Homo sapiens: one gene and its partners. The protein of the gene in region 1 purifies or fractionates together with the protein of each later gene. This does not show direct contact. Each region holds a gene or a part of one and is shown in the gene's direction. Other genes may lie near its edges.

The links. The genes of interacting proteins can lie anywhere in the genome.
Region 2: the proteins of PLTP (region 1) and SEL1L3 purify together in Homo sapiens (affinity purification with mass spectrometry; 4 studies listed by BioGRID and IntAct, with this or other methods). This does not show direct contact.
Region 3: the proteins of PLTP (region 1) and ADPGK purify together in Homo sapiens (affinity purification with mass spectrometry; 4 studies listed by BioGRID and IntAct, with this or other methods). This does not show direct contact.

Annotation. Positions count from the first base shown.
Region 1 is NC_000020.11:45,908,797-45,917,020, reverse strand, and holds the start of PLTP (phospholipid transfer protein isoform a precursor), read left to right. Parts: upstream 1-4,865; 5' UTR 4,866-4,942; intron 4,943-5,557; 5' UTR 5,558-5,568; coding exon 5,569-5,668; intron 5,669-5,769; coding exon 5,770-5,869; intron 5,870-6,026; exon of another isoform or gene 6,027-6,150; intron 6,151-6,950; coding exon 6,951-7,079; intron 7,080-7,349; coding exon 7,350-7,505; intron 7,506-8,224. UniProt on the Homo sapiens protein: Mediates the transfer of phospholipids and free cholesterol from triglyceride-rich lipoproteins (low density lipoproteins or LDL and very low density lipoproteins or VLDL) into high-density lipoproteins (HDL) as well as the exchange of phospholipids between triglyceride-rich lipoproteins themselves.
Region 2 is NC_000004.12:25,859,678-25,867,564, reverse strand, and holds the start of SEL1L3 (protein sel-1 homolog 3), read left to right. Parts: upstream 1-4,576; 5' UTR 4,577-4,728; coding exon 4,729-4,890; intron 4,891-5,411; exon of another isoform or gene 5,412-6,438; intron 6,439-7,887.
Region 3 is NC_000015.10:72,766,448-72,774,201, reverse strand, and holds part of ADPGK (ADP-dependent glucokinase isoform 4 precursor), read left to right. Parts: intron 1-2,356; coding exon 2,357-2,419; intron 2,420-7,754. UniProt on the Homo sapiens protein: Catalyzes the phosphorylation of D-glucose to D-glucose 6-phosphate using ADP as the phosphate donor. GDP and CDP can replace ADP, but with reduced efficiency.

The DNA of each region.
Region 1 (8,224 bases):
GACAGATCACTTGAGGTCAGGAGTTCGAGACCAGCCTGGCCAACATGTGAAACCCCATCACTACTAAAAATACAAAATTAGCTGGGCGTGGTGGTGCACGCCTGTAATCCCAGCTACTCAGAAGACTGAAGTAGGAGAATTGCTTGTACTCTGGAGGTAGAGTTTACAGTGAGCCGAGATCATACCACTGCACTCCAGCCTGGGTGACAGAGCGAAGCTCCGTCTCAAAAAATAAATAAATAAAATAAGCTGAGACAAAATGACAAGGAAGATCAGGTGGAAAAGCATTCCAGGTAGAGGGAACAGCAAATGCAAAGGCTCTGAGCAAGAAGAACTTGCACATTCAAGGAACAGAAAAACCAGTTTGGCTGGAGCCGAATGCAAAGGGCAAGAGAGGTGAGAGGTGAGACAGAGAGAGTAGGCCCTATCACATGCCAGGGAATCAGGGTACTGAGGCAGGAGTCTATTCCAGTATGGTGAAAAGCCACTGATGGCTGATCATGCTAATGATTGTAGGTAACATTTTTTGAGCCCTTAGGAAATGCCAAGTACTTATTAAACCCTTTCAATGCATTAACTCATTTAATCCTCACAAGCAATCCTAAGAGGGAGGTACCTGGATCATCCTCATCTTACAGATGAGGAAACTGAGATCCAGAGGGGTTAGGCCACTGGCCAGTGAATTGCATGGGACAAGACCATTTAAGAGATAAAAATGATACAAAGATGAAGCCTGGATTCATCTGGGTACACAACTGAGGCTAGAAAAGCATTTCTTTCCCATCCCTTTGATTGCTGGGAAGCCTCTCCTTCAGTCTTCAAAGCCAGGAAGAGTGAGGCCAGGCACAGTGGCTTACGCCTGTAATACCAGTATTTTGGGAAGCCAAGATCGGAGGATCTTTTGAGGCCAAGAGATTGAGACCAGCAAGGGCAATATAGCGAGAAATATTTCACCTAAGAAAATGAGAGCAAGGCTGGGCACACTGGCTCACGCCTGTAATCCCAGCACTTTGGTAGCTCAGGAGTTCGAGACCAGCCTGGCCAACGTGGTGAAACCCCATCTCTACTAAAAATACAAAATTAGTCAGCTGTGGTGGTGTGTGCCTGTAATCCTAGCTACTCTGGAGGCTGAGGCGGGAGAATCGCTTAGAACCCGGGAGGTGGAGGTTGCAGTGAGCCGAGACAGCACCACTGCACTCCAGCCTGGGTGACAGAGTAAGACTCTGTCTCAAAAAAAAAAAAAAAAAAGAAAAAAAGAAAAAGAAAACGAGAGGAAAGGCCAGATGTGGTGTAACACCAGCACTTCGGGAGGCTGAGGTGGGTAGATCTCTTGAGCTCAGGAGTTCAAGACCAGCCTGGGCAACATGGTGAAACCTCATCTCTGTGAAAAATACAAAAATTAGCTGGGTATGGTGGCACATACCTGTAGTCTCAGCTACTCAGGAGGCTGAGGTGGGAGGATCACCTGAGCCTGGGGAGGTTGAGGCTGCAGTGAGCCGTAACTGCACCACTGCACAGCAGTCTGGGCAACAGAATGAGACCCTCTCTCAAAAAAGAGGGAAAAAAAGAAAGAAAAGAAGAGAAAACAGCCAGGTATGGTGGTGCACACCTGTAGTCCCAGCTACTTGGGGGGCTGAGGTGGGAGGATTGCTTGAGCCCGAGAGTTGGAGATCAGCCTGAGCACATGGTGAGACCCTATCTTAAATAAATAAAATGTATTTTGTTGTTGTTGTTAAAAAAAAATAAAAAAGGGCCAGGTGCACTGGCTCATGCCTGTAATCCCAGCACTTCGGGAGGCCAAGGCGGGCGGATCACCTGAGGTCAGAAGTTCGAGACCAACCTGGCCAACACGGTGAAACCCTGTCTCTAAAAATACAAAAATTAGCTGGGCATGGTGGCAGGCGCCTCTAGTCCCAGCTACTCGGGAGGCTGAGGCAAGAGAATCACTTGAACCTGGGAGGTGGAGGTTGCAGTGAGCCGAGATCGTGCCACTGCACTCCAGCCTGGGTGACAGAGCGAGACTCCACCCCACAAAAAAAAAAAAAGAAAAGAAAGGAAATAAGAGGAAAGAAAACTAACATCCACCAGGTTTTCTGCTTGAGCCAGGCTCTAGGAAGGTTACTAGAGTTCAAAGGAACACAGATACTTCCTCCTCTGGATACTCTTAACACTTTCTCTGTTCTCCCTCTACACCTTTTCTGCTTTGTTTGCTCGTGGTATGTGCCCCTAATTAAGATAGCTAGCATTTATTTGGCACTAATGATGTGTCATGTACCAGGCCCATTTATTCTTGCAATAACCTTAAATTATTGTTTCCATTTTAGGATGAGGAAATTGAAGATCTGAGTGCTTAAGCAAGGGATCAATGTCATACACCTAAGAACTGACAACCTGGGGTGTAAACTCTTGTCTGTCAGACACAAGAGTCTAAGTACATAACTACCGGGCTATAAAGCCCACCTTCCACTCTTCCATGAACAGTCTACGGATTCCCTAATAGCAGCCACAGAATTGCTTCAACCTCTACTTCCTGTTAAAGAGGGTTCATAATAGTGCCAGTCTGACAGGTTGTTAAGGTTAAATAAATTACCTAGAATTCGGATGACCAGTTGTAAGGTTTCCCAGGGACTGAGTGGGTTCCCAGGAATGGTTTCAAAATGGGGATGGCTGGATGTGTGGCTCACGCCTGTAATCCCAGCACTTTGGGAGCCCAAGGCAAGAGGATCACTTGGGTCCAGGAGTTCAAGATCAGCCTGGGCAACATGGTGAGACCTGTCTCTACAAAAAATACAAAACTTAGCTGGACATGACATGGTACCACCTGCCTGTAGTCCTAGCTACTCAGGAGGCTGAGGTGGGAAGATCGCTTGAGCCCAAGAGGTGGAGGCTTCAGTGAGCCGTGATTGTACCACTGCACTCCAGCCTGGGCAACAGAGCAAGACCCTGTCTCTAAAAATATAAATAGGCGGCCGGGCGCGGTGGCTCACGCCTGTAATCCCAGCACTTTGGGAGGCCAAGGCAGGTGGATTGCCTGAGGTCAGGCGTTCGAAACCAGCCTGGCCAACATAGCGAAACCATATCTCTACTAAAAATACAAAAAATTAGCTGAGCGTAGTGGTGGGTGCCTGTAATCCCAGCTACTTGGGAGGCTGAGGTAGGAGAATTGCTTGAACCTGGTAGGCGGAGGTTGCAGTGAGCCGAGATTGCGCCATTGCACTCCAGCCTGGGCAACAAGAGAGAAACTCCATCTTAAATAAATAAATAAAAATAAATAAATAGGCTGGGCATGGTGGGTCACACCTGTAATCCCAGCACTTTGGGAGGCTAAGGCAGGCGGATCACTTGAGGGCAGGAGTTCAAGACCAGCCTGGCCAAAATGGCAAAACCCTGTCTCCACTAAAAATACAAAAATTAGCCAGGTGTGGTGGCACATGGCTGTAGTCCCAGCTACTTGGGAGGCTGAGGCAGGAGAATCACTTGAACCCAGGAGGCAGAGGTTGCAGTGAGCCAAGATCACACCACCGCACTGCAGCCTGGTGACAGAGCACGACTGTGTCTCAAAAAAATTAATTAATTAATTAAATAAAAAAGGAAATGGAACTATTTTTGTGAATCTGTGGATTATATCAGAAAAAAAAGACACAATGGGGAAAGTCCTAGGCAAATCAGGATGAGTTAGTCATCCTTCCTAGATGAGTGTTTGGTGCTAAATACATGCTCAGCAGACATGATTATTGCTTCCCCTTTCTTTCGTCCATTTGGCAACAAAAAGGTGGCAAGCACCCACTCTGTGCCCTGTCCTAGGGTCCGGGAACCCTGTAAGCAGTAGATGGAGGTGGGGGTGGGGGTGGGGGCGGGGATGCTGTTCAGAGCACCTTGCTCCAAGGGTTCATTAAAAAATCCACCAGTGGACCGGGCGCGGTGGCTCATGCCTTTAATCCCAGCACTTTGGGAGGCCGAGGCGGGCGGATCACAAGGTCAGGAGATCGAGACCATCCTGGCTAACACGGTGAAACCCCGTCTCTACTAAAAATACAAAAAAAATTAGCCGGGCGTGGCAGCGTGCGCCTGTAGCCCCAGCTGCTGGGGAGGCTGAGGCAGGAGAATGGCGTGAACCCGGGAGGCGGGGCTTGCAGGGAGCCGAGATCGCGCCACTGCACTCCAGCCTGGGGGACAGAGCGAGACTCCGTCTCAAAAAATAAAAATAAAAAAAATAGAAAAAACAATCCACCAGCCACGATAAATGGCAGACCTCCTTCTGATTTCAGCCGGTGTGGTATGTTCCTGGGCTGACAGCACTTGTCTAGTCTTGCTTTCCCAAGTGGGAAAGGTCTCTGGGACCTTAAGGTCCCCAGGTGGTGACACAGAGACAGGTAGGGGGGCCCATAGCAAAGCCAGGCAAGGAGGTCCCGAGATGATTGTGGGTGGCAGGGAAAGAAAAAATATTCCTTGACTTTGTGCCTGGACCTGGTTGTAATAAAGGCCCAAGAGGTAGTTCCTATCATCGTGCACATTTCGCTGAAGGAAGAAACTGAGGGTCAGTGACCCAAGTGAAGTGACTTGCCCAAGATCATGCAGGAAGACATGGATAATTGTAATTTGAACCAAGGTCCCAGCAAAGTGGGATTGTTGGGGCTGAGTGGGCCGGCTCCTGCATTTCCTTCCCTCTCCCTGGGCTTGGGTCTCCCACTTGTCCAGACAGCGGCCGGGCTTGTCACGGGGCTCTGTGCAGCCTTTTCCACTCTCCCGGCTGCCAGCGTCCCGCCCCGTCCCCTCCCAGCCCCCAAGGGAGGAGGGGAGAGCTGCAGAGAGGAGGAGGGGTCGGGGAGGCCGGCTTTATAAAGGCGGCTGGAACAACCCTGCCCGCCAGACCCCGTCGCCCGGATCCCCTGAGCTGCCCGCCATCCCACGTGACCGCGCCGCCCCCCAGCTCCACCGCTGAGTGAGTTGGGGCGCGTCCCTATCCCGTTCCCAGTCCCTCGCCGAGCCGCGTGGTGCACTGAAGCCGGCGTGGGGAGGAGAGCCGATGAAGGAGAACGCTAACATGGGGGCTCCAGGCAGAATCTCTAATGGGAGAGATTTAGGACCTGAGGGAGCCGGGAGACCCGGGAGCCCACGGTCTGGTCGGCCACCTCCTCTCCTCCCCGGGCGCGAGGCCTAGGAGACCGCAAGCCACCCTCCAAGAATGCGCGTGCAGTCGTTGCCGTGGCAACGTGCAAGCCTGCATGGGCCCACCGCTAAAGGAAAGGGGAGGTTGTTGGGGGTGTGGGGGCTGGTCCCCTGGAGGTCCAAACTCATCACGCGGCGGTAGCACGAGGGAACTGGGAACGTCCCCTCCCCCGTGTCCCAAATCCTCTGGGAGCCAGAACGCAAGTCGCATCGCCTCTCTGAGCCTCAGTTTCCACATCTGCCATATGGAGGCAAGATTATTGGTTCCAAGTTCCCCGAAGAGTTATCTGGAGGGTAACGATCCAGGCTAGTTCCCACTTATGGTTGGACGTCCAAGGAATGGGTTTAAGCGGCTCAGATAACTCCTGCGACCCCACCCCACCCCCAGGCCCGCTCGCCATGGCCCTCTTCGGGGCCCTCTTCCTAGCGCTGCTGGCAGGCGCACATGCAGAGTTCCCAGGCTGCAAGATCCGCGTCACCTCCAAGGCGCTGGAGCTGGGTAAGGCGCAGGGGCAGACAGGGACGGACGGGAGCGGACGGGGTTGGGGTCGCCCCAACAGTGGGCACGGGAGCTAAGTAAGGGTTTCTCTGCTGCTTCAGTGAAGCAGGAGGGGCTGCGCTTTCTGGAGCAAGAGCTGGAGACTATCACCATTCCGGACCTGCGGGGCAAAGAAGGCCACTTCTACTACAACATCTCTGAGTAAGTGGGGGGCGGGGCCTCGCGATCCGGGGCGGGGCCTCGGCGGTGGAGGCGGGGCCCGAGAAATCTCAGGGTCTCGGGAGACTGGAGGCTGAGTGGGATGGGGCGTGGCCAAATCGATGAGGCAAGACTTAAGAAACCGGATGGGGCCGAAAAGATAAAGGCCAAGCCAGTCATCATAGGCGGGACCAGGCAGATGGGCGTGGCCTTGAAAATGTAGAGGGGGCCAAGAAGGAAGCAGGACCAGTGGATGTGAGGCGTGGTCGAAGAACAACAGAAAGGTGGAGTCAAGGAACTTCCCAATAGATGAGAGTGGAGTCTCGGGCACGGGGTGGAGTTAATCGGAGGGGTGGAGAAACTGAAGGCTCTAAGTATGGTTTAGGATGAGGGAGGGGGAATAAGGAATTGAGATGTGAGACGGAGCTTAGGTGATGGAGGCAAAGTGAACGGACTCTATTAAAAGACCGGGTGTAGCAACCCCAGGGTGTGGGAGGGGAGGGGGTGCAAGCAAACAAGACTTTTTTTTTTTTTTTTTCTGAGAGGGAGTCTTGTTCTGTTGCCCAGGCTAGAGTGCAGTGGCGCGATCTTGGCTCACTGCAACCTCCGCATCCCGAGTTCAAGCGATTTTCCTGCCTCAGCCTCCCGAGTAGCTAGGACTACAGGCGCGTGCCACCACGGTCTGCTAAGTTTTGTATTTTTGGTAGAGACGGGTTTCACTATGTTGGCCAGACTGGTCTCGAACTCCTGACCTCAAGTGATCCGCCCTCCTCGGCCTCCTAAAGTGCTGGGATTACAGGCATGAGCCACCACCGCACCTGGCAAACAAACAAACAAGACTTTTAAGCGATGGGGTGAAGCTCATTTTTAACACCTGGATCAGGAAGACCTCCTCTCTCAGCCACCCAAGTTCAACTTTGAGCCACCCAAGTCTAAGTTGGGCACTTGAGGGACAATGGAAGAATTCATTCCACCCACTCCCGCTTCCCCAGGCCTGGACTTGAAAGGGGAGCAGACAAATTTCCTGTCGTTGGGGGAAGTTCCCTCTTCTTGGCCCTGGATCTGACCCTGAGGCCTCCTGTAGGGTGAAGGTCACAGAGCTGCAACTGACATCTTCCGAGCTCGATTTCCAGCCACAGCAGGAGCTGATGCTTCAAATCACCAATGCCTCCTTGGGGCTGCGCTTCCGGAGACAGCTGCTCTACTGGTTCTTGTAAGGACCCAGCACCCTCAGGGGAGTGGAGAGTGGGTCAGGAGGGCTGGAGGTGCTGTGGGGCTGTGGGCAGCCCCCTTAGCCTTCCTGAGTTTCCGTTTCTTCATCTGTGTAACAGAAACAGGCATATGCATTTCATACGAGTTGATAGGAAGGTTTGGTAGGATGTGTGGAAAGAGGTGAAACCTTATTAAGAGGTATGGTGATGCATGGGGGCACTGAAGACTCAATTGAGCTCCTACCTGGAGTGAATATTAACCCCCCTGGCAGCTATGATGGGGGCTACATCAACGCCTCAGCTGAGGGTGTGTCCATCCGCACTGGTCTGGAGCTCTCCCGGGATCCCGCTGGACGGATGAAAGTGTCCAATGTCTCCTGCCAGGCCTCTGTCTCCAGAATGCACGCGGCCTTCGGGGGAACCTTCAAGTAAGCCCCAGCCCCAACCCCAGCTCACCCTTTTCGAGCCCCACAGCTCATCTGCCTAGCGCAATGCAAAGTGCATAGGCCTGGGAATCAGACCAACTGGGTCCAAAGCTCAGCTCTGTCACTTCCTGGCTGTGTGAACGTGGCCAAGTCACTGAAGCTTGGTGCCTCAATATCCTCATTTTATAAGATCCTATTTTATAAGATCGTTGTCAGGATTATTTGTGTTGGTATATGTAAAAAATATTTAGAACAAGGCTGGCTGTGGTGGCTCATGCCTGAAATCCCAGCAATTTGGGAGGTCTGGGCGGGCGGATCACAAGGTTAACAGATCGAGATCATCCTGGCCAACATGGTGAAACCCCATCTCTACTAAAAATACAAAAATTAGCTGGGCGTGGTGGCACGTGCCTGTAGTCCCAGCTACGTGGGAGGCTGAGGCAGGAGAATCGCTTGAACCCGGGAGGCGGAGGTTGCAGTGAGCTGAGATCGTGCCACTGCACTCCAGCCTGGTGACAGAGCAAGATTCCATCTCAAAAAAAAAAAAAAAAAAAAATTTAGAACAGCACCTGGCATATGATAAATGTATATTTAAGTGCTGGCCACTTAGATAAGAGTAACTGTGAGGACTATCTGATATGCACATTTGGCCATGTACTGGATTCTCAATAATTGGTATCTCTAAATAATAATAACAAAAATAATAATTTTTTTTTTGAGAG
Region 2 (7,887 bases), on another chromosome or scaffold:
GTTGCCTGACAGCAATCTTCTATTTTTGCTTTCCTCTCTTCTATTTCTGCTTTCTTCTCTTTTATTTTGATATAAAAGGCAAATGTCACGGTTCATTCATCTTCATTCTGAATAACTGAAATTACAGGAAAGAGGGAGGGGGAAGAAAGGAGAAGACTGCAGAATTACAGAGAAACCTGAGTGTGGAAATAACCATGTTCTAACAGGAAGAGACTGGGGAGACAACAATGAATAAAAAAAGAAAAGAAGGAAGGGAGGGAGGAAGAAAGATGGAGAGGAAAAAATGAAAAAGGAAGATGTTGGATTCAACTTTATTCAGTGAATATGTCAGAAATGTTCTATGTACAAGGCATGGGGGTACAGAGAAACGGTTAAGAAATAACCCCTGCTTTCGGGGGGCATATAGTCTACTGGAGGAGAACAGGCCAACTAACATACCCAATATAAGGCAGAGTTAGCCAGTGGCCACTTAGGATTACAGGCAATGCCTGCTGGGGGCACAGAGAACCGACCCATTGCGTTTCGACCTGAGGCCATGAGGGAAGATTCCCTAAAACTGGCAGCATTTGCCTCGGCCTCAAAGATTTATGTGGGAGGGTAAGTGGATGGAAGGAACACTCTCTACTCCTGCAGAATGCCTTCCTACCCACCTCCTGTAATCTGGAGGTCATTTGTCTCCGCAGGGGCAGATCTCTTTGCCCCAGACATCCTTAGTATATAGAAATGTGGTTACCAACTGCCGACATGGACAGGGCCACTCCAAAGGTAAGTTTTTACTGATCCACAGCAAAATGCAACATATAAAGACAAGACGGAAATAAAATATTCAGATTAAAGAACAGCTTGTTTTTTGTTTTTTTTTTTTTTAAGACAAGGTCTCACTCTGTCGCCCAGGCTGGAGTGCAGTGGTGTGATTAGACCTCAGTACAGCCTTGACCTCCTGAGCTCAAGCGATCCTCCCATCTCAGCTTCCTGAGTAGCTGGGACTGCAGGCACACACCACCACACCTGACTAATTTTTGTATTTTTAGTAGAGACAGGGTTTCACCATGTTGCCCAGCTGGTCACAAACTTCTGGGCTCAAGTGATCCACCCGTGTTGGCCTCCCAAAGTGCTGAGATTACAAGTATGAGCCATGGCACCCAAACCAGTCTTTTCTTAGGATGTTAGGCCCTTCCTAATTTTTTGATGGCAAAAGGCCTTGTCTTTTTAATGAAATGATACTGACAGAAGATAGTATATGCAGTTGGTTTATAAAAACTATTTTTGCTTGGTAAAGTAATAGTTGACCAAGTGCATTGGTCCCCGAGACGTGACTGATCTTAAACCATTTTGGGCCAGGCATGGTGGCTCACGCCTGTAATCCCAGCACTTTGGGACGCCTAGGTGGGTGGATCACGAGGTCAGGAGTTCAAGACCAACCTGGCCAACATGGTGAAACCCCCATCTCTACTAAAAATACAAAAATTAGCTGGGCATGGTGGCAGGTGCCTGTAATCCCAGCTACTCTAGAGGCTTGAGGCAGGAGAATAGCTTAAACCCAGGGGGTGGAGGTTGCAGTAAGCTGAGATCACGCCACTGCACTCCAGCCTGGGCAACACAGTGAGACTCCGTCTCAAAAAGAAAAAAAAAAGAAAAAAAATTTCAGAGTCTCAGAACATCTCACCTGGAATGCTATGATGTGCCACCTAGGCATGCAGATGCAGTCCTTTCTCCAGCCCCTCCCTCCAGGCCTCTGAAGTCTCCTCCTAGGGGCGGGCCATGATGAGCTCAGGACTCTGTGCCTTTGTCCTTTCCCGTGTTGAGGTGTGGAATTGGTCCCTTTCCAAGGGCATGTGATAAACTGACTCACACCAAGGCAGTAATAAGGGAGGCCAATCTCCCCCTGGGGCCTTCGACTTTTAGTGGAGTATTAAAACTTAATTTAAACTGATGAATTGTAATGGTGAGATTTCAAGCCCTTCCATGGGACAATGGGAAGATATATTTCTTTTTAAATAAAGGGCTTTCTTCTGAAATCAGACCACGCCCTTTCAATGACTGACACAAACTGCTGGAGAGACGCAAAAGTAAGAGCTGATTCTGTCTTCTGGATCAAAACGTCCCACTCCCCCGTGAAAAGAAATCTTGACTTTTTCTCTCCCCCTCTCCAACACAGGATGAAGCAGTTAATCCCACCACCTCTAGCTCAGGATGAGAGAGCAACTCACACATCCCTCTTAGAAGACCAAACTCTGGCCGGTTTTCTGCATGCCTGGTGCTCCTTGCAGAAACAGAGCCTTCCTGCCTACCTCTGGAATCCTGGGGCCTCAGGTGGTGCCCAGTCCACAGTAGGAACACAATAGGAGATGAGTGAGTAGGGGAGAAGTGAGCAGTTGGATATGGCAAGTTAGAAACAGTCCAGCCTCCAGTGGGGCACTCTGCTTACCTACACTTAGGTAAACCCAAATCCTCAAAGCTCACAAGGCCTTGAAAACTCCCAATTCCATGAATCCTGATTACAAACAACCCCGAGGAACCATTTAGCTCCCCGAAGACCAACAGAATCTGTGTACAATGTGGGAGGAGAGAAACTCCGGAGCGTGGCCCAGGAAGACAGGTGGCAACCCTAGAAATGCTGCAATGCCTGTTGAAGCCCCTTCCCCCTGAACTGGCCGACAATTTTCCTTCCATATACATTAAAAGCATAGTCTGTATTTTGACCTGATGGAAAAGATATAGACAGGATCTGGGACAAAGCCACCAAATCTTTTGTTCCCTTGGACACTCGATAGAATAAATGTTTTCCACGTCACACAGAAGAATGTTAAGTGCTTTGTTTCTGCAGAAGTGGAACAGAGATAGTGGGAGCATCTGTCAAAACCCCCAAAATGCTTTAATGTGGTGGCAGCTGGCTGGGAGGAGCAGGAGCCCAGTTCCCTAAAAGCCAATAGTTCTGGAAATGGAGGAGGGCTGTTTGAACCAGCGCGTTAACATCACCCAGGAGCTTGTTAGAAAGGTACATTCTCAAGTCCCTCCCAGGACCAACTGAGTCAGAAATTCTAGGGCTGAAGTCCAGGAATCTGTGTTTTAACAATCCCTCCAGGTAATTCTGAAGTTTGAGAACCGGTGGAATAAGGCCAGGGAACTCACACAAGGCCACAGCTCTTAGGTGACCTAAAAAAAAGTGGACGACAGCTGAGGAGCCACCATGCCTGGTGTGGCCAGGCCTGTACTGAAGCAGCTGAGGGCGCGTCCACGCCCGTCAAACCATCCCGGGCACCCCGTCTCACCACCAGCCTCTCCCCGACGTCTGTTGTGACTTGACCTATGCTCGTGGCACAGGGAAAGGGCTGTGGCCTCTCAGGCTCCCAGGCTATTATTAGTTCCAATCCGCACAAATCTACCAGTGCTAAAGGGAAGCTTCTGCGAACTTTGGAAGGTGGATTAACTGTTTCAGAGCAGCAGCTGCGGGCCCAGATAGTTGTCGGAGCCGCTAGACACAGCCAAGCGCTTCCCTGAAAGCCAAGGCCGGCGGCGAGCTGGTGGTCCCGCCGGCCGGAGGCCCCTCCCCGCCAGGCCGCAGAACCCGGGTCGGAGAGCAGCCAGTCTCAACCTGCGTCCCCAAGGCCGAGGATGTGTCCTGGTTTTTTAAAAAGCTGTTTGCGCACTTCCAGGGCCTCACCCCTTTCATTTGGGGCTCCAGTATTACTGTATTGACCTAATTAATTCATTTTTTTCTCAGTCCAAAGTGGAAGCCGGAGCACAGGGATGCAAATCAAATACAAACCCGTCCTGGGTGCCAATACTCTGGACAATTAAAACAAAGAGCGCAGTGGTGGCGGTGGCGGCGGCACCACACAAAACCCTCGGGAAACATCCAGAACGTGCCGCGAACCAGCCGGCAGGGTGGGGCGCAGCCCGGCTGCAAACATGCCAGCAAGGAGGCAGTCCCAACCCCGCAGGTGGACAGGTGGAGGTTGGCAGGGGTCAAAATCCATCCTGAAGGCCTGGGAGCCGGGCAGCTGCGCGGCACAACTCCAGGGGGCACACTCGCCCTGCGCCCTGCGGGAATGGCGCCCCGGCCAAAAAAGCAACCAGACAAAAACCCATTGCACGGGCGGGAACTGGTCTGTGCGACCCGCAAAAGGGGTGGGTGGGAGAGGAAGAATGCGGAAGCGAGGAAGAGGATGGGAAGGGAGAAAGAGGAAAGGGAGGAAAAGGAGAAAGTGAAAAAGAGAGGGGGTTTGGGAGCGCGAGGGGAGAAGGAAGAGGGAGCCGGAGGGAGAGGAGGGGGATCGCAGAGAGCAGGAGCGCGGAAGGGGGGCGGGGGAGGAGCAGAGAGAAAGGGAAAGGGGGGTGCGCCGGGGCCCAGCGACCCGGGCGGGGGGTGGCGGCGGCCAAGGGGCGGGACCCGGGTCGGTGCCCACCTGCGTGGGCGCCCGCTGCTCCGAGGGGTGGAAGCCCGGGGGCCAGAGGGAGCGGCCGGGAGGAGGGCTGGGCAGGGAGGCAGAGGGGAGGGAGGGGACGGGGACGGGGAGGCGGGGAGGAGCCGGCGCTCGGCTGGGGCTGCGGGGGCGGCGACGGCGGGAGCGGCAGTGGCGGCGGCGGCGGGTCCGGAGGTGGCGGCAGGTGGCCCCGCGCGCGGCGGCCGGCCCGGCCGGGGGCGGGCGGGAAGGTGGCGCCTCGGGCGGGGGCCGGTCCCTGCACCAGGTGACCTGTTCCGGCCCGGATCCGGGCGGCCTCGCCATGCAGCGGCGCGGCGCGGGGCTCGGGTGGCCGCGGCAGCAGCAGCAGCAACCCCCGCCGCTCGCGGTCGGCCCCCGGGCCGCAGCCATGGTCCCGAGTGGCGGCGTCCCCCAGGGCCTCGGCGGCCGCTCTGCCTGCGCGCTGCTCCTGCTCTGCTACCTGGTGAGCGCCGGACCCTGCCCGGGTCTTCCCCTCCGCGCGGGGCCCCGGGGACGCGGGTGGGGGCGGCCGGGGACACCCGCCACGCGGGGCGGGGACGCCGCTGCTAGTTTTCTCTCTTCCTCGTCGCTGCGCCCCGGGCGTTCCCGGCACCTGGGATAGGTACCCCGGGCGTGGAGAGGGGCGCTTGGACCGGACTTGCCAAGCTGCTCTCTCGCTCGTGCTCATTCCTTTCCCTCCTGGACTCTCTCTAGACCCGGGTCGGGTTACCCTCGAGACCCCTTCTTGTCCTCGACTCCACCCGGGAGCCTCGCCGCCCGGAGTTCGCTCCCCGCCCCGCCGCGCGCAGTCTCCAGCACCCCCCAACCCCCCACCCCTCCTGGGCTTCCCTCTCAATCTTCTCGCAGCTCCTTTCCTTCCCGTGCCCAACTTCGCCTCTTACTCTCGGCGCCCGCCACCCGCGTCGACCCTCCTTTTAGTTTCCACCGGGTCCTCCCGGCCCGGACAGTTTTCTGCCAACGCACCTCGCATCTCCAGCGCTCTTCAACTCCTCCTTGGTCACTCCAGCCAAGTTGCGGATGCCGGAAAGAAATCTAGTTCTCTGTAACACGCTTACCGCCAGAGTGGTGACTTTAGCTGCGTCTTGAACATTGTCATTTCAGAGAATATGTTTGGCTCATGCATGTCAGTTTGCAATTTGCACACTTCTTGGCTTCTGTTTTAGTCATCAACTAAAGGGCAGTAACCTATTTTTCAAAACCCATTTATTTTAAATACCAGAGTAGCTGAGACCCCTCAGAACAAAGTGGGGAGAAATTTTCTCAGTTCCTTTGAGGGCTTGCTTGCTTCTGTTTTGAGTTCTCCTAAACAATAGTAAATTTACAGAAGGCGACACCCTTCCTGCCCAGAGTAACTTATGTTCCACAATCCTGCAGAAACCTTGGGTTATCTCGCCATATATTACTGTAAATAAATGAAATGGAAAATGCTGAATCATGAAACTGATGTAATAGGAAATTCACAGAATGCCAAAAAAAAAAAAAAAAAGAGCAGTGTCATTGTCCAGAATTCATTTCACTTATGTGGCATTGTCATTATTTGGAGTCTTTCTTTTTGGAAGCTAAAAACTGCTTAGGAGATACTGGCAGAAATTAGAATTTGATTCTGAAGAAATTTGCCACTCAGCCCGTTTCTTTTAACGTTTTTTACTTCTTGAATGTTTCATTTCTTGAAGCAAGAAGGTGTAAAAATGCAAATTATAATTCTGCCTGTGCATCTACCTGTTGAGCAATCCGTGCTTTTACTCATATTTCAGAATTAGCCAATATCAAATTGTGTGGTTGGGCTTACTTCATATTTTCATAAGAAGTTGTCAGTTAACATGAATGATATTTTTTTGCCCAAGAGATATTATTATTTAATATTTATGCCACAAGGTTACAACACACAGGCTCATAAATAAAACTGCCATAACAAATGACAAGATTTCAGTTTAAACAGATGATCCCTGTACACAGGGCCCTGCTGGCTACCCACAGAAGCAGAAGTGATGTAGTAGAGTGTTGCGTGAAACATTCATATACAAATGGGCCGGGCCGAAAAGTTCCACGTGGACATCTCAAGACCTGGCAAGGAGGGGGACTACTTCTGGACAGTTCAGGAAGTCAGAGTCAGGAGAGCAAAGCCTAAGGGCCTAAGTGGACTCTGGAAACAGAGACAGATAATGATGGAGCAAGTATTCCTGTGAAAGTTCTGTGTACACCAAGGGGGATTAAGAGAACAGAGGGAAAAATGATGCCATGGATAGACTCAAGTGAGATAGTGAAGGAGTGAGGAAGGGCTCCGGAAAGAGTAATTTTAGAAAATACTGTGATGTGGAAAATAACTAGAGCATGGATGAATGTCTTGGCAGATGGGGAAGGAATGGATTTGGGGACCTCATGGTGGGGGGAAATGTCAGTGCTTCCTGCCTTTGTATGCTTCCTTCAGATGGACTTCTGATACGCTTACTGTACAAGACAGACTTTGATAAACAAGAGAGCCATTTTGCAAAGGACACAAAAGGCCGACTTAAAAGGTAGTCTCCACATTTTGTTCTGAAGATCTAGCCGTTTACTAGGGATGTTGCTCTTGGGTCTACACTACCCAAGATACTACTGAAGGCAAGGCTTCTTGATCTTGGAGAAGCTTGGTGTGAGAATTGGGGAAAATGTAAATATCCATATGAAACACTTGAAAAACATAAAACAATAGAGAGAAAACGCAAATGTATAATTGTGTGCATTTTGCTCAATCAAGGAATGCTACCTGGAGGAAGTGGTTGGTCAGGGGGATGGGGCTGGGCAGGTGCAGGGTAGAGATGGAGCAGAATAGCTGGGCAGGATCCCAGGAATATGTAGACTCTAGAGGAGGAAAGGTCTTTCATAATTTGAAAGCCTACATGGTAATAACGATAGCTTACATTGTGCTATACATTGTGCTAAATCGTTTATAGGCATTATCCAGTATTTATCTTAGCAACAGCCCTCTGAGGTAGGAGCTACTATAATCTCCATTTAGATGAGATAACAGAGACTCAGAGAGGTTAAGTTAGTTGCCCCAGGCCATACAGTCTGAGATTGAAACCCAAATCTGTCTCCCTCCAGAGCCCCAGCTCTAAACCACACTAGCTTATTGTCTTCTGGATTTTGCTGCTTGTAACTCATTCTTCATCGATGTACGGGCCATTAGCAGAGCTCTAGCAATTAGCAGCTACTGTGCAATTGGCCAGGATGTGAGGTCATGTCTAAAGTAATCTAAAATATACAAAGCAGGAAGCGCAGGCCACAGAATAGAAGCAGGATGTTAAAGTGGGGAAGAAAGGTAAAGCCAGAAAATATTTGCCATCGTTAATGAAGAGATAAAGGTTTGGGGTTTTTATGTAGTCCAGAGGCAGCTGGTAGAGTTTAGCATTTGAGTTTGGATGAATGTGCATACAAGTGTACAGCAAATGTGCCTTGG
Region 3 (7,754 bases), on another chromosome or scaffold:
TGGCACCTTTCACAGGCAAACCTTTGTGACTACTTTTATTTTGATGACTTAAGATTTTAGGCCGGGCACAGTGGCTCACGCCTGTAATCCCAGCACTTTGGGAGGCTGAGGCAGGTGGATTGCTTGAGCCCAGGAGTTTGAGACCAGCCTGGGCAACATGGTGAAACCCTGTCTCTACAAAAAATACAAAAAATTAGCTGGGCATGGTGGCATGTGCCTGTGGGAGGATCACCTGAGCCCGGGAGGTCAAGGCTGCAGTGAACCATGACCGTGCCACTTCACTCCAGTCTGGGCAACAGGGTGTGACCCTGTCTCAAAAAAATTTTAAAAATAAGTTTTTTGTCTTCGAAGCTGCCTATTTGAACATTAGAAATGGACATAGGCATTACCTAGCTGAGTTTCTAAAGGTGACAGCAAGTTAAGATTTCAGTTATCATTTTGACAACTGGGATCAGTAGTGAGATTCTTATCTCTTATGAGAGAATCTCGATAGTTCTAACATGATGAGTTCACTGCTCAAAAGTCTTTATGATTACGGAATTTAAACCACCAGTTTGATTTCTCTTCTCTCTTGATTCTGCCTTTATTTCTTGATGAAAAAAATTTTTACAGCAACTTGATCTAGCTTTGTGATGGTCCAGGTTATTTCTTAACATTGTAAAACCCCTTTCACTAGAGGAGTGCCTTTTCATACTTCCTTATAGTTTAAGGCAGGTTGATAAACATTATATGAAAATTCTGAAATCCACTTTGTAGATATCTTACTATTTTCCCAAGATTTTTTTTAGTAAATTCTAACTATCGTGGTTGAATAAAACATTAAGGCTGACATGTTAAAGGGCCAAATTTCAGCCTACATATCACAGAAAGTTTTAAATTATCTCTAAAAAGCTATTACTGTCCCACCTGAATTCAGAGGTTAGTCAGCACAAAATTGGGATAAGAGTGATGTCTACCATCTAGAATTGTTTACTCCAACCTTGTCCAGTCTGCAGCCCAGGATGCCTTTGAATGTGGTCCAACACAAATTCATAAACTTTCTTAAAACATTATGAGATTTAACCTCCCCCCCACCCTTTTTTTTTAATAGCTCATCAGCTGTCGTTATTGTTAGTGTATTTTATGTGTGACCCAAGACAATTCTTCCAGTGTGGCCTAGGGCGGCCAAAAGATTGGACACCCCTGGTTTAGTCTATGCCTCTGCGTGGGCTGAGGACTAGGAAGCTGGGATAGTAGCATTCCACCCAGGTAACACTATCAGGCTTTTCAACTTTTATAATAGAACAGCAGCCTTAGCTGTTATGTGTCAGATTTCCAAGGCATATGGATCCATCCTTAGCAACATGGAACACCAACCTTGAATTATTTGTTCTCCAGGTCCTCAGCTGAGAGATGTGGTGTTTAAGGGAAAGTACTGTCCTATATTAGGGGCCCATTATCTTTAGAATTTACTCCCAGGAAAACTTTTATGTTTCCCAACACATCAGTGTGTTTCTTCGTTTCTCAAAATTTAGCAACAAACATTTACTGAACACTTCAGAAGAAGACAGTCCCTGCCCCGAAGGACCTAGTTGTGTACCCAGATGATAGTAGCCCAAGCAGACAAGAGCTGCATTAGAGGTTTGTTCAGGTTATAGGGGTAGGAAGAGATCTGTAATCCTATCTGGTGAGGGCGGTTGTGAAGGCTGAGATGTCAGTGGGGTGTAAGGGGAACAGAGAAGGCATTACAGAAGAGGTGACACTGCAGCTGATTCTTGGAAAGTGATCAGGGTTTTACCTAGTATATGAGAAAGGGAGGGTGTCCTAATGGAAGGAAACAGCATGTGCCAAAGGCACAGAGACAGGGGAAGGCTGACTTGGAGAGCTGTAAGCAGGGTGTGGAAGGGAAGGGCAGGAGATGAAGGTAGTAAGGAAAACATGGGTTAGATAAAGGCCATATGTGCCTCACTCAAGAGTTAGATTTTAGTTCATTATAGTATCTACTGAATGATTTTTCCACAGGATAGTGAAATTTTTCTTCATTTTAGAAGGACTATAATGTAGACGATAAGCCCTGTCCACACTTTTCCTGTTTCCTGTGTCTCTTCTGGCTGTCTGTAAGCTCAGAGCTGAATTTGATCAACAGTTAAAGCAATCAGACTCATTTTCATGGTTGTCCTATTTATTTTCTTCATCTTATTACTCACTTTCTATTTCTGTGTTGCATTCACTTCATCTGTGTGTCCTTTGATGTAAAATCACCTCAAAATGTTTTTGGGAAATGGACTATAAATTAATTTTTAAAATAAAAAATGATTAAACTTGGGTGATATAGTTGTATTAAAATACTGTCTAAAAGCCTTGAACTCTCTTACAGCACTATGTAGGAGGAAATGCAGCTTTAATTGGACAGAAATTTGCAGCCAACTCAGATTTAAAGGTAGGTCAAGTTTTTAGATTAAAACCTATGCCTTTCCCTAGTGTTTCAATAATTTTAGGAGCAAGAATGAGTATCTATTCCTTGATTCAACTTATGGATCACCTACTATGTACCAGACCCTGGGTCTTTTGTTAGGAAGCAGTAATAGTAGGAGATAGTAGTAACTAATACTTTGAGTGTTTACTCTGTGCCTGACATTGTCTTTAGTGCTTTGCATAGATTATCTAATCCTTGCAACAAACCCTGTAAGGCTAGTCGGTACTGCCATTGTTCTTCCTTTCTGCATGAGAAAACTTGAGGCACACAGAGGTTCACAACTGATTGGTAATGGAATGAGAAATTTAACCCAGGCAGTCTGACCCAATAACCCATGTTCTTAGGCACCATATCATTTAATAGTTAGGAGCATGTGGGCCTTGAGACTAAGGATTATACAAGTCATGAGGGAAAACAACGGTTGGCCGTGTTGGTGAGCCTGGATCCAGAGTGCCAAAAAATAAAAGCCACTAGATGAGAGTCAGTAGGGGAGTGTCTTCAAGACTTAAATTGTTTGGTTTAAGTAGAATTAAAAATCGTTGCCATGTTCACAGTAACACCTGAGTAAGAAGTTTCTCTTGCTATGAGTAGAATAGGCCTGAAGGGGGAGGCCAACAAGAAAGTTATCGCTGTTTTCCTGTATAATGATTAAGGTTTGGATTAGAGCAGCCAGAGAGGAGAAACATGTATCTAAAACCTACTACAATACATGGGGAACAAAGAAGAGATTTATCAAAGATGATTATGGAGTAAATAACCTTGATCAGTGCAGAATGGTTGTGGCCGCTAACACTAGAAAACAGACTGTGAACAGTCTTCTAGTTTTGGGGGACCAGCCTAAAAATAGAAATGTGAGTCAGAGTGGTGGAACCAGAAGCCAGAGATGAACTCAGAAATACGGATAGGTCATCAGCAGTTTCAGGGAAAAATTCATATGGAGCCACACTATACACCTGGAGATAGATGTGCTTTCAGTTTAGAGAGGATATTAAAATGTGAACATTCATATTTTAATAGGAATCAAAGTTCTCATGAAATATTAGGGTAGAAAATACTTTTAAGAAAGAATAATAAAAAGAAAATAAAGACTTTTGCAGTCATTATGTTTATAAATTGTAATTAACTCCCAAATAGAGAAGATTAGAAATTCCAGGGCTGACCTTTGGAAATATTACCAGCTAATGGGTGGAAGAAAAGGAGATTGATCATAAGCCCTTTAGAGAGAGCCCAGGCCATTCCCATCAGAATCCCAGGAGTTTTCATGGTTTCCTAAGAAGCCACCCTCCTGATCCTGAGAAATAATTCTGCCCTCTGGGAAGACAATACCCAGGACGGTCATGGCTGAGTACAAGATTGACCTTTCAGTATTGACCTCCCCTGGGACCAGCATTTGCTCTTGGTCTCTGGAGTAGCTGGTCCTGGGACCAGTCTGATTGGAAGGCATTCTAATAAAACAGGTCTGGCTTTGGTAGGAGACTGAGGAAAGAGAAGCATTCTGTTACTCAATCCTCACAACAGTCTTATGATTTCAAAGACAGAGGTCTAGAGAGGCTAAGTAAGGTGCCCAGGGGCACCTGGCTAGTAAATGATAGAGTCAGGATTCAAGTGTCAGGCTCTGCCTTTACTTCACCCTGTATGCACTCTCAAAGAGACTCAGTTTAACTTTCTGAAATGCTTCTCAACATGGACTGAGAGATCATCTGAGAACTACAGAGATTAAGAACTAGGTATTTTCCAGAGGTGGTAATTATAGCTGGCACTTCCTTCTATAGTTTTTTACCATATACCAGGCACTGTTTTAAGTTTTAGGTGCTTTAAATGTGTATGAACCAATTTAAATCTTCATAGGGCCCTATAAGGGAAGTCTTTTTATTATCCCCATTTTGCAGATAGGAAAAATGAGGCATGGAGAAGTTAAAACTGGTGAAAATCACATACCTGATAATGAGTAGAGTGGGAATTGAACCCAAGTAGTCAAGCTTCAGAATCCATTCTCCTAATAGCCATGCTATATTGCATCTTTGAAATAGACGCTGGTGAATATAGTAAAGGCAGGTTTAGTGGAATGATAGAATAGAAGCCAAATTTCAGGAGAGGAACCGTGCCTTTAAAAAATATACTTGTGTAATCCCAGCACTTTGGGAGGCCGAGGCAGGCGGATTACCTGAGGTCAGGAGTTCAAGACCAGCCTGGCCAACATGGTGAAACCCTGTCTTAGCTAAAAATACAAAGAATTAGCTGGGCATGGTGGCAGGCGCTTGTAGTCCCAACTACTCAGGAGGCTGAGGCAGGAGAATCGCTCGAACCCGGGAGGCGGAGGTTGCAGTGAGCCGAGATTGCGCCACTGCACTCCAGCCTGGGCGACAGAGCAAGACTCCATCTCAAAAAAATATATACTTGTGGAATTAGGCAAGAATTAGGAATAGTTATTTTATTTTGTCAAATGCTTTTGTCAAATTCTGCATTTACTGAGGTTATTGTGTGGTTTTTTGTTTTTTAGTTTGATATATGGTAATTATATTGACTTTCACATATTAAACCAACCTTGCATCTCTAGGATAAAGCTTACTTTGTTCTGATGTATTCATTATCCTTTTCACATATTCAGTTTACTAAAATTGTGTTTAAAATTTTTACATCAATGCCCAAGAATAATATTGGTCTGTATTTTTCTTTTCTTGTAATGTCTGTGGTTTTGCTGTCAGGGCAATACTGGCCTTGTAGAATAAGTTGGAAAGTGTTTCCCCCTCTTCAATTTTTTTTTTTTTTTTGAGAGACAGGATCTGGCCTTGTCATCCAGGCTGGAGTGCAGTGGCATGATCTCGGCTCACTGCAACCTCTGCCTCCTGGGCTCAAGCCATCCTCCCACCTCAGCCGAGTTCCTGAGTATTTAGGATTGCAGACACGTCACCACAGCCAGCTAATTATTTTGTATTTTTTGTAGACTTGAGGTTTCACCATGTTGCCAGGCTAGTCTCAACTCCCGACCTCAAGCGATCCGCCTGCCTTAGCCTCCCAAAGTGCTGGGATTACAGGTGTGAGCCACCACACCTATCTTCTCTTCAATTTTTTTTTTTTCTTAAGATGGAGTCTCGCTCTGCCCAGACTGGAGTGCAGTGGTGGCGATCTCAGCTCACTGCAATGTCCGTCTCTCAGGTTCAAGTGATTCTCATGCCTCAGCCTCCCGAGTAGCTGGGACTACAGGTGTGTGCCACCATGCCCAGCTAATTTTTGTATTTTTTAGTAGAGAGGGAGTTTCACTGTGTTGGCCAGGCTGGTCTCCAACTTCTGATTGCAAGTAATCCACCTGCCTCAGCCTTCCATAGTGCTTGGATTCATCCAATACACCTGGCCCTTTCTTCAATTTTTAAAACAGAGTGAGTGTCGCATTGGTATTGTATCTTCCTTAAATGTTTATAGAATTTAAGCCTTCTAGTGAAGCCTTCTAGGCCCAGGGTTTTCTCTGTAGGAAGATTTTAAATAACTGATTTCTTTAATAGATATAGGGAAATCCAGATTTTCCTTTTTTTTTTTTAAATGAGCTTTAGTAGTTTGTATCTTTCAAGGAATTTGTTTCATCTAAGTTGTTGGATTTATTGGCATAAAGTTAATTATGGTATTCTATTATTCCTTTAAGATCTCTACAATTTGTAATGATGTTTTCCTTCTCATTCCTGATATTGGTCATTTGTATCTTCTTTTTTTTCCTGATCAGCTTGGCTAGAGGTTTATAAATTTTATTGCTCTTTTTAATAAGTAATTAGCTTTTGGTGAATTTATTTTTCTCTGTTTTTCTATTTTCATTGGATTTTGCTTGCTTCAGATTTGACTTGCTCTTTTTCTAGTTTCTTAAGGTGAGAAGCTACAATCATTGATTTGAGACCTTTCCTGTTTTCTCATATAGGGGTTTAGTGCTATAAATTTCCCCTTAAGTACTGCTTTAGCTGCATCCCAAAGATTTTGATGGATTATTTTTATTTTCATTCATTTCAAAATACTAATATCCCTTTGATTTATTGAGATGTGCCATTTAATAGCCCATTCATGGACTACTTAGAGGTATGTTATTTAGTTCCTAAATATTTGGGGATTTTCCAGATGTCTTTCTGTTACTGATTTCTATTTCAATTCCAGTATGGTCAGAAAATATGCTTTCTATGACCTGAATCCTACTAAGTTTTTGAGACCTTTTTCATGGTGCAGAATATTCTATCTTGGTGAGGTTCTGTGTGTACTTGAAAGCTTCAAGAATATACATAAGCCTTTCTGTTGTTGGGTCGAGTGTTCTGTAAATGTCAATTAGATGAAGTTGATTGATAGTGTTGTTCAAGTCTTCTATATTCTTATTGGTTTTTTTTTTTTTGTCTATTTGATCTGTCAGTTATTAAGAGGTATGTTGACGTCTCCAACTGTAATTTTGGATACTTGTCTATTTCCTTTATAGTTCTGTAACTTTTTGCTTTATGTATTTTGAAACTCTTATTAGGTACATAAATGTTTAGGATTGTTACATCCCTTTAATGAATTAATTCCTTTATCATTACTAGGGATAAATAAAATCATTTCATAATATTCTTTGCTCTGAAATCTATTTTGATTGAAATAGCCATTCCAGCTTTCATTTGATTAGTATTGGCATGGTATATCTTTTTCTGTCCTTGTGCTTTTAATCTATTTGCATCTTTTTACCTTAAAGTGTATTTTTTATAGACAGCGTATAGTTGGGGCTTGCTTTTTAATCCACTTTGACAATCTCTGCCTTTTAATCGGAGTGTTTAGACCATTTACATCTAATGTGATTATTGATATATCAGGTTAGGTTTAAATCTAACATCTTGCTATTTGTTTGCTGTTTGCCCCATCTCTATCTTTGTCCCTCTTTTTCTGTACTCTTTTGGATTATTTTCTATGATTTCATTTTATCTTCTCTGACTTTATTAGGTATAATTCTTTTTTTCTTAGTGGTTGCATTAGGGTTTATACTGTACATCTTTAGCTTATCACGGTCTACTTTCAAGTGATAACAGGCATACCTCAGAGATACTGCATGTTTGGTTCTAGACGACTGCAATAAAACAAATACTGCAATAAAATAAAACGCATGAATTTTGTTTCCCAGTGCATTAAAAGGTATGTTTACACCGTACTATCGTCAAGTAAGTGTGCAGTACCATTATGTCTGAAAAAAAGTGTACACAATTTTAGAGTGCTTGGTTGCCAAAAAATGTTAACAATCATCTGAGCTTTCAGACGGTCATAATCTTTTTGCTGGCAGAGTGTTTTGCCTTGATGTTGATGG